Linked DNA regions of Homo sapiens: region 2 is linked to region 1. Evidence: fine-mapped expression QTL. A gene starts in region 1. The other region holds a variant in brackets. All regions are shown on one strand. Distances are from middle to middle.

The links.
Region 2: its variant is fine-mapped to the expression of COMMD7 in whole blood (TOPMed, PIP above 0.99).

Annotation. Positions count from the first base shown.
Region 1 is chr20:32,740,874-32,746,220 of GRCh38, forward strand. It overlaps COMMD7 (COMM domain containing 7), which reads right to left and starts at 2,594. Exons shown (of 9, transcript NM_053041.3): 1 at 2,435-2,594. The coding sequence starts at 2,518. RefSeq lists enhancers at 259-760, 1,430-2,257, 3,145-4,089 and silencers at 1,211-1,385, 2,370-2,439, 2,620-2,849.
Region 2 is chr20:32,768,937-32,774,309 of GRCh38, forward strand. All of the region lies in intron 1 of DNMT3B (DNA methyltransferase 3 beta), which reads left to right. Among named protein-coding and RNA genes, the nearest start is that of DNMT3B, 9.2 kb to the left of the region's middle. RefSeq lists enhancers at 1,303-1,804, 4,774-5,373. The variant T/C (reference allele first, on the strand shown) is at 2,367.

The DNA of each region.
Region 1 (5,347 bases):
GGCTTACGCCTGTAATCCCAGCACTTTGGGAGGTTGAGGCAGGCAGATCACTTGAGGTCAGGAGTTCGTGACCAGCCTGGCCAACATGGTGAAACGCTGTCTCTACTAAAAATACAAAAATTAGCCAGGCATGGTGGTGCACGCCTGTAGTCCCAGCTACTTGGGAGCCTGAGGCAAAAGAATCACTTGAGCCCAGGAGGTGAAGTTTGCAGTGAGCCAAGATCACGCCACTGCACTCCAGCCTGGGTGACAGAGGAAGACTCCGTCTAAAACAAACAAACAAACAAAAAAAAACTGACAGTAGGCTAAGGTCAACTTATCAAAAACAGAAAAAAAAAAATTTTTTTTTAGGGATGGGGGTCTCACTATGCTGCCCAGGCTGGAGTGCAATGGCTATTCACAGGTGGAATCACCATGCACTACAGCCTTGAAATCCTGGGCTCAAGTGATCCTCCTGTCTCAGCCTCCCAAGTAGCTGGGACTACTGTGGTAGCTGTGCCACCGTACCCAACTAGAAAGTTGTTTTTTTTTTTTTGAGATGAAGTCTCACTCTATTGCCCAGGCTGGAATGCAGTGGTGCAATCGCAGCTTACTGCAACCTCCACCTCTCAGGTTCAGGCGATTCTCCTGCCTTAGCCTCCAGAGTAGCCGGGACTACAAGTGCCCGCCACTACACCCAGCTAATTTTTGTATTTTTAGTAGAGACAGGGTTTCATCATGTTGGCCAGGATGGTCTCGATCTCCTGACCTTGTGATCCGCCCACCTTGGCCTCCCAAAGTCCTAGGGTAGGTGTGAGCCACCGTGCCCGGCCTATTTTTTATCTTTTATACTGTATTTGTACTGTACCTTTTCTATTTAGATTTGTCTAAACACACAAATATTTACCATTATAGTCCAGTTGCCTATGGTATTCAGTACAGTCACATGCTGTATAGGTTTGTAGCCTAGGAGCAATGCGCTATACCATATATCCTAGGGTGCAGTAGGTTTGTGTAAATAAACTCTAGGATGCTTGCATAAGATAAACTCAGGGCTGGGCACAGTGGCTCACGCCTGTAATCCCAACACTCTGGGAGGCTGAGGTGGGCAGATCACCTGAGGTCAGGTGTTCAAGACCAGCCTGGCCAACATGGTCAAACCCCATCTCTACTAAAAATACAAAAATTAGCTGGGCATGGTGGCGTGTGCCTGTAGTCCCAGTTACTCGGGAGACTGAGACAGAGAACTGGTTGAACCTGGGAGGCGGAGGTTGCAGTGACCCGAGATCGCGCCACTGCACTCCAGCCTGGGTGACAGAATGAGACTACGTCTCAAAAAAAAAAAATTAATTTCCATTTCTATTTAATTTTTAAATGTGGCTACTACAAAATGCAAAGTTAGAAATGTGGCTTGCAAATTTTTCTATTGCATAGCTCAAGCTTAGAACCTTCCTGTCGTTACAAGTTCTAAGTTTGGTTTTTATCTCGCAAGCAGCACTACTGTGTGGGAAGTTGTGGGGGGTATGGAGATGAAAGAAGAGGGGCGCTACCTCCTGGGAAGTGACAACCTAGCGGGGGAAATAGATGTATCTTCCCAGTGGGGGTGAGAAGTGTCATTCTCACCTATTTCAGCAGCCTTGGTGGTATGAAAAGGCATCCCAACCAGCACAGAAGCAGGATGCCTCCAAGACTGCCTTGGTTGGCACCTGCAGCCTGAAGGGGGAGAAAAAGGCTTTGCTAGCTCCCCTACCATCGAGGATGAAGACCCCCACTGTACACAGTGTATAAGGTTTCTTTCCATGTGAATCCCAGTGACTCTCCTTAACTGGGTGGAGGTGGAAGGTGTCATCAGCCTTGTCCCAGATCGAGCCCCTCAGGCCCACAGAGCCCCAGTGGGGCCTGGCTATTACTGACACTCATGTCACACTGAGATGTAAGACGGCAGCCCAGGCCAAGCTTCCCCGGGCCCCCTCAGATTCTCGGGCCCTCCCACTCCCCTCAGGCTTCCTCGGCCTCCCTGCCAAACATCTATCTCCCTTTGGACCCCACTGCTCCCCAAAACTCCCCACGCCCTTAGTCTGTTCCTTCAGTTCCCCAAACTCCTTCAGCCTCATCTAGACTCCCCTCCGTCCCTCTTCTAGGACCCCAAAAGCTCTCCTCGGCCCCAGGACCCCGCAGAGGTCCCGTAGTCCCATCTCTGAGACCCCACAAAGCCTTTCGGACCCCTCAGGTGGCCCTTAGGCCTCCGGAGATCCCTTGGCTCCCCACACTCTCCTCAGACCCCAGCTCACCTTAGCCTCGCCCCGAACCCACCTCACACACCCCAAACGCCCACAAGACGCCGCTCTGTCTAGTCTCTCCCAACTCCCGCGCACCCCCGGACGTCCCCCCCACCCCAGGCCCGGATCCTGGAATCACCTGGGCCCCGCGCCCCACGCCCCGCCGCCGGGCCCACCTGCGCGCCCAGCTGGTTCAGCTGCTGCATGTCGCCGCCCACGGCCTCCGGCACCGGGTCCTCAGTGCAGTGCAGGCGGCCCATGGCGCGCGCCCCAGCCCCGCAGGTTCCACCGCCGCCGCCGCCCTGCTCAGCTTCCTCCTCCGCTGCCGCTGCCACCGCTGCCGGCCTCTCCGCGCATCCACAACCGCACTTTCGCCACGGCCGTCGCAGCGCACTCCTCCCCCGGCCGCCCTGGGCTGTCCGGAGCCGGGGAGCCCTCGCAGGGCCGCGGACACGCGCGGCCGCCGGGCTCCGGGGAGGGGCAGGGGCGGCGCCGGCACCGGCAGACGCGAGGTTTCCTGCCAGCTCTCCCGCTGAGTGACCTTTGGGTACGGCGCTTGGCCTCTCTGAACCTCAGTTTCACCATCTGAGAAAATGATGGCTGGGGTAGCTCCTTAAATGAGTTAAGCCTCCAGAAATGTTTAACGCAGAGACCGGCACACAAGAGGTCTTCAATCAATGGCTAGCTGCTATTATCATCATCACTGTTACTATGCACTCCAGAGATATTTATGGCAGCCTACTCGATGCCAGACACTGGGGACAGGGAAGGGAACAAAGCAGGCCAGAGTGTCTCTCGGAGAGCTGACATCAGAGTAGAGACTAGGTCTCAACCTTGGAAGGGCATCAGCATCACCCCAGCATCACCTGGTATTGCCGGGCCCCGCCCCCAGAGGATCTGATTCGAAAGGCCAGGGTGGAGCCTGAGAATTTGCATTTCCAATAAGCACCCAGGGACTACACTTTGAGACCTTCTGGAGTGGAAGAAACTGACTTACCAAAGTTTCCTCAAAATAGTGCGAGGGCTTTGACTGTGCGGGGCAGGGAGGGTGGTGGTGAGGTGGGTGAGGGGAGGTTACTGAGACCGTGATCATCACTGCAGCCCCTCAAACACTCTAACCCCCATGCCCTCTCTTCCCAGGGGCTCCTCACAGTTCCCAGGTGAATATTACCCTAATCCCCACTGGAAACATGAGAAAATAGAGACATGCTACCCAGAATCTAGGAACTGAACGCCAAGCCTAAGGGCTTCACCTAGCCCCTAAGTCCAGCCTTGAGGGTAAAGAGGTAATGCCGAGAAACCTGGAGCAGGGAAATGTGGGGGGTTTGGCTGGCCTTCCTCACCAGCCCTCCTCCTCTCCTCTACCCTTTCCTGAAAATCCCTTCTGTAAAAGTATAAACAAAATGTCTTCTACCCGGCCCGGCGCGGTGGCTCACTCCTGTAATCCCAGCACTTTGGGAGGCTGAGGCGGGCGGATCACTTGAGGTCAGGAGTTTGAGACCAGCCTCAACATGGAGAAACTCCGTCTCTACTAAAAATACAAAATTAGCCGGGCGTAGTGGTGCATGTCTGTAATCTCAGCTACTCGGGAGGCTGAGGCAGGAGAATTCCCTGAACCCGGGAGGCATAGGTTGCGGTAAGCCGAGATCGCGCCATTGCACTCCAGCCTGGGCAACAAGAGCGAAACTCCGTCTCAAAGAAAAAACAAAAAAGTCTTCTACCCAAAGGCCAAGCCCATCCCCTTCAGTCATTATATCATTCATACATTCATTCAACAAATATTGAGTGGCACATGCCTGTGGTCCCAGCTACTCGGAGGCTGAGGCAAGAGGATCACTTGAGATCTTGAGATCGAGACTGCAGTGAACCCAGATGGCGCCACTGCACTCCAGCCTGGGCGACAGAGCAAGACCACATCTCCATAAAAAAAAAAGAAGGTCTGCTGTGAGGCAGATACCATGACATGATAGGGGGTGGGGATTCCACAGTGACACAACCAGATGAACCAGATGCAGTGCCTGGCCTCTGAGAAGTCAGAATTGACCCAGGGGGCAGACGCAAGTGTGTGTGAAAGTATTAAGGGATGCCAAAAAGTAGGAGGTGCTTTGAGAATGTGTACAGGACACAGTCCGAGTTTGGAGTACCTGGAAGAGAATAAACCTTCGGGTGACAAACAGACAGGAACTCAGAGGCCCTACTCACCGTGCAAGAATTTTTTTTTTTTTTTTTTTTGAGACAGATTCTGGCTCTGTCACCCAGGCTGGAGTGCAGTGGCACAATCTCGGCTCACTGCAATTTCTGCTTCCCGGGTTCTAGTGATTCTCCAGCCTCAGCCTCCCGAATAGCTGGGAATGCAGGTGGCCACCACCAAACCCAGCTAACTTTTGTCTTTTTTTTTTTTTTTTGGAAACGGAGTTTTGCTCTTTTTGTCCAGGCTGGAGTGCAATGGCGAGATCTCGGCTCACTGCAACCTCCGCCTCCCGGGTTCAAGTGATTCTCCTGTCTCAGCCTCCCAAGTAGCTGGGATTACAGGCATGTGCCACCACCCCGGCTAATTTTGTACTTTTAGTAGAGACGGGTTTCTCCATGTTGGTCAGGCTGGTCTTGAACTCCCCACCTCAGGTGATCCGCCTGCCTCGGCCTCCCAAAGTGCTGGGTTTACAGGCGCGAGCCACCGCACCTGGCCCAACTTTTGTCTTCTTACTAGAGATGGGTTTTCACCGCATTGGCCAGGCTGGTCTCATACTCCTGACCTCAAGTGATCCACCTGCGTCAGCCTCCCAAAGTGCTGGCATTACAGGCGTGAGCCACTGCACCTGGCCCGGAATTTTTATTTTTAAATATTTTTAACCTTGTTAAAAAAGAAGATCTGGGCTGGGCGCAGTGACGCATGCCTGTAATCCTAGCACTCTGGGAGGCTGAGGCCGGTGGATCACCTGAGGTCCGGAGTTCAAGACCAGCCTAGCCAACATAGTGAAACCCTGGTTCTACTAAAAATACAAAAATTAGCCGGGCATGGTGGTTCATGCCTGTAATCCCGGCTACTCTAGAGGCTGAGGCAGGAAAATCGCTTGAACCCAGTAGGCAGA
Region 2 (5,373 bases), 28 kb after region 1:
ACCTCACCTGTGTCCTCATGTTGCCCTAGGATGTTACATGCTGAGCTGTAAGCAGGATGCTGAATTAGGGGAATTGCTCAGTACTAAATATGATTGTTACTACAACCACAAAACTAGCAAGGAGTAGAACTGCATTAAAACACTGTTGCAAATTTTTTTATTTTTTGAGACGGAGTCTTGCTCTGTCGCCCAGGCTGGAGTGCAGTGGCGAGATCTCGGCTCACTGCAAGCTCTGCCTTCCGGGTTCACGCCATTCTCCTGCCTCAGCCTCCCTAGTAGTAGCTGGGACTACAGGCGCCCGCCACCTTGCCCGGCTAATTTTTTGTATTTTTAGTAGAGACGGGGTTTCACCATGTTCGCCAGGATGGTCTTGATCTCCTGACCTCGTGATCTGCCCGCCTCGGCCTCCCAAAGTACTGGGATTACAGGCGTGAGCCACCATGCCGGGCCCACTGTTGCAAATTTCTTTCCAAAACCTCTGCCAGCACATGGCTGAACCCACAGAACTGGCAGGACACACAAGATGCGCTGGGTTAAGATGCTTTGGTGCTCTCTGTGGGTTCAGCTGACTGTTTTACAGGCCTGCTTCTTGACCGTTGGGGTGGGCAGATCTGAGCCCCCACTAGGTAATTGTGGACAGTTTTTGAAAAGTGGTTTTTATGTGAGATCATGGGCTTCTTTTAAAGCCATTTGTATATATGCAGTTCCCTTATCTGCAGGCCTTAATTTTGACATTTCTGTTTTCCTTCTCGAGATTTGTTTTCTGTCCCTGCAGTACTGCTTTTTCCAGAATGTCATATAAATGGAATCATACATTATTATTATTTTTGAGACAGCATCTCACTCTGTTGCCCAGGCTGGAGTGCAGTGGCACGATTTGGCACATTGCAACTTCCGCCTCCTGAATTCAAGCAGGAACCATACATTATATAGCCCTTCGAGTCTGGGTTCTTTTACTTATTGTGAGATATTTGAGATTTATTTGTGTTATGACACGTACTAGCAGTTATTTCTTACTTTTTAAAAAATTTTTTAAGACAGGTCTCTGGAGTTCAGTACTACAATCACAGCTCACTGTAGCCTCAACTCCAATGCTCCAGCAGTCCTCCCACTGCAGCCCCCACTGCCCAGTAGCTTCGACTACAGGCACTTGTGCACCACTATGCTCAGTTAATTTAAAAAAAAATTATTTTTGAGACAGGGTCTTGCTCTGTCACTCAGGCTAGAGTGCAATGGCATGATCTCAGCTCACTGCAACCTCCACCTCCTGGGTTCAAACGATTCTTCTGCATCAGCCTCCTGAGTAGCTGGAATTACAGGTGCCCGCCACCTCATCAGGCTAGTTTTTGTAATTTTTTTTTTTTTCTGAGGCAGAGTTTTTCACTCTTGTTGCCTAGGCTGGAATGCAATGGTGTGATCTCAGCTCACCGCAACCTCTGCCTCCCAGGTTCAAGCGATTCTCCTGCCTCAGCCTCCCAAGTAGCTGGGATTACAGGCATGTGCCACCACCACCAGCTAATTTTTGTTGGTTTGTTTGTTGTTGTTGTTTTAGTAGAGATGGGGTTTCTCCATGTTGATCAGGCTGGTCTCGAACTCCCGACCTCAGGTGAGCCGCCCACCTTGGCCTCCCAAAGTGCTGGAATTATAGGCTTGAGCCACCATGCTCCGCCTTACTTTTTTTTTTTTTTTCCTTTTGAGACAGAGTTTCGCTCTTTGCCCAGGCTGGAGTGCAATGGCATGATCTTGGTTCACCACAACCTCCGCCTCCCGGGTTCAAGTGATTCTCTTGCCTCAGCCTCCTGAGTAGCTGGGATTACAGGCATGTGCCACCATGCCCGGCTAATTTTGTATTTTTAGTGGAAACGGGGTTTCTCCGTGTTGGTCAGGCTGGTCTTGAACCCCTGACCTCGGGTGATCTGCCTGCCTCAGCCTCCCAAAGTGCTGGGATTACAGGCATGAGCCACCATGCCCGGCCTAAATTTTTTTTTTGTAATGTTGGGGTCTCACTTTGTTGCCCAGGCTGATCTTGAACTCCTGGGCTCAAGCAATCCTCCTGCCTAGGCCTCCCACATTGCTGGGGTTACAGGCATGAGCCACTGTCCCTGGCATCTTTTTTTTTGCTGTGAATATAACATTTCTAGCTTTTCTTTGTGTTGTGATTTTTACCTTTTCAATACATAGTGTGCAAGGACATATTTTCTGGTTACGATAGAAATAATTTATTTGAAAGTCTATCCATGTTGAAACAACTAAAAATGCTGTGCCTTTATCTGTTGGTAGAAGAACTAAGCTCCCTTAAAGAAATCTAGAGAGCAGAAGAGAACAGGAAATGAGAGACCACAAACTAAAGGGAGAAAATGAACTTT[T/C]CAATAAGGCTTGCAGGCTTGCTCTAGCAGTTGTAGTGATTAAAAGTAGTGGCAATGGCTGGGTGCAGTGGCTCACACCTGTAATCCCAGCACTTTGGGAGGCTGAGGTGGGCGGATCGCCTGAGGTCAGGAGTTCGAGACCAGCCTGGCCAGCATACTGAAACCCTATCTCTACTAAAAATACAAAAATTAGCCGGGCGTGGTGGCATGTGCCTGTAATCCCAAGGAAGCTGAGGCAGGAGAATCACTTGAACCCAGGAGGTGGAGGGGTTACAGTGACCCGAGATCATGCCATTGCACTCCAGCCTGGGCAACAGAGCAAGACCGCATCTCAAAAAAAAAAAAAAAAAAGGAGTGGTAAAGGATAAATACCAAACAAAAGTGAGCCTCAAAACATATTACATATATATGGGAAGTTCAAATAAGAGATAGAGTTGGGATGTATTCATAGGTGTCTGGCTTTACTTACGGGGAAAAATATTAGGTCCCTATCTCATACCATATACAAATAATCAAATAATTATGTTGATTAAACCTGAGTGGCCTAATTCAAATAAATGTTTCTCAGACAGGCGAGTTATGTTTTCCGATTGTAAAAGTTACATGGGCTTAAGGTAGTTACCCCCCAAACCTTCCTTCTGAGTATGAATTTTTATAGTTAGAGAAGAAATGCTGCAGAGAAATGGCTTAAACATCAATAATTGATGTTGCATTATGCAGGTTTCTTGTTTTCACTTTACATAACTTTGTCTAACAATAAGTACTGCACTCTTTGCCCCCTATTGTGGAAGCAGGTAATTTAGTCAACCAGTCCTCTTGACCGTGATTTGATTGCAGTGTTTGCTATGACAAATGGGACTGCAGCAACCCCCTTGCACAGAGGCCTTGGCGAGAGCTTTGAACTGGGTGGTTTCTGAGCAGTAGAATCCTGTGTAACAGGATATAGACATTAGGCATTTTAGATGACACAGTGAAGATTACTATCCCAAAGACTGAACCAGTATCCCTGCTGTGTAGGTATTTAGGCTTAAGATGACTAAATACTGTGTAGATAGGTAGACTTGAGATTTAAGGCGTTCTTAGTTGAAGCCACAGGTGCAGCCTGCTGTGAGGGAGGGGCCAAGGTTGAGGGGGTCTCTTTCCAGAATATTGACCTCCTTTGCCCCCTTGGGAGGGGACAGGGCTGTTGGCTCTGATTTTGCCAAGGGGTAGGTGGCCACAGGAATTGGGCATAGCAGTGCCTAGGATTCTGCTCCAATGCTGCCCCTCATTCTCTGAGTTACCATTGACCACTCCTTGGGGCTGCCACACCCTTCAAGGGGTTCTCAAAGTGGATATAGGGGAAGGGGCTGGGTGTTTGTGATTTCTGTATAAAGGGCAAAAAGTTTAGACTCTAAAGTTACTGTCATATCTTTTCAGATCTTTATGGTCCTAGTTTTTTTTTTCCTGTTACTTATCTAAAAGGTAATGACATTATTTTATTCCAGTGCGTTGACAAACATCTGAGTATATTTTGGTGTCATGCACAGTCTGCAGATAGCCACTTGTCTGGTTTTTCCCTGTTTGGACACATTTTTTTTTTTTTTTTTTGAGATGGAGTTTCGCTCTTGTTGCCCAGGCTAGAGTGCAATGGCACGATCCCGAGTAGCTGGGATTACAGGCATGTGCCACCACCCCGGCTAATTTTGTATTTTTAGTAGAGAGCGGGGTTTCTCCATGTTGGTCAGGCTGGTCTTGAACTCCCGACCTCATGTAATCCGCCCTCCTCGGCCTCCCAAAGTGCTGGGATCACAGACGTGAGCCACTGTGCCTGGCTTTTTTTTTTTTTGAGAGGGAGCCTGAGCCTGTACTGTTGCCCAGGCTGGAGTGCAGTGGCTCACTGCGACGTCCACCTCCCGGGTTCAAGCGATTCTCCTGCCTCAGCCTCCTGAGTAGCTGGGACTATAGGTGTGTGCCACCACGCCTAGTTTATTTTTTGTATGGACACACTCTTCTGATAATTCTGCTTACTATGCCAAGGGCCCAGCTTCTACTGTAGGATGACAGTGGTACATGTACTCATGACCTAGAGGCACTGAGCAATTCCCCAAACGCATTCTGAATTGTGGAGGGTGATGGGGTGGATACTTCTTGATTGGCCCTGTGGTGTGGTGCTGTGGTGGGTAGCCAGATGGCACATGAGAATAAGTGACTTCAGGTATCATGACTGTGTCATCTATGTAGGGGTCCTTGGTACCAACTTCCCAGTGAATTGGGTGGGTTACTTTATTTCACAGATTATAAAACTGGGGTTTGAGAGAAATATTGGGCTTTTTTTTTTTTTTTTTATAACAGGGTCTTGTGCTGTCACTGGGCCTAGAGTGCAGTGGCATGACGATAGCTTTACTGCAGCCTCAACTTCCGAGGCTTAGGTGATCATTCCCCATCAGCCTCCGAGGAGGTGGGACTACAGGCGAGTAGCTAGGACTACAGGGGCAGGCCGACACATTCAGCTAATTTTAAGAAATATTTTAATAGAGAAGAGGTTTTGCTGTGTTGCCCAGGCTGGCGTTGAACTCCTGAGCCCAAGCTCAAGCCTTGGCCTCCTAAAGTGGTGGTATTAACAGGCATGAGCCACTGCGCCCGGCAGTGGTTTTTTTTTTTTTTTTTTTTTTTTTTACGCTTTCCTGTAAATCTGATGTTTTCTGGAATTTAGGGTAAGTTCCTTATCAGACAGAGCAAAAGCACAGTACTGGGACCTTGTGTTCTGTCATGTGTTCTGCTGCCGCCGCCAGTGTGGACAGCCTGAGTCTGGCCCCCTTTCCTTTGGATGTGCTGTCCCTGCTGCCTGGATCCTTCCCGCTCTCTACTTCACCTAGGTGTGGTGTCCCTCCCTGGGCTTACTTACTGCATTGTTTTATGGTGTCTTTTTTTTCTTTTTTTTTTGAGACGGAGTCTCGCTCTGTCACCTAGGCTGGAGTGCAGTGGTGCTATCTCCGCTCACTGCAAGCTCTGCCTCCCAGGTTCA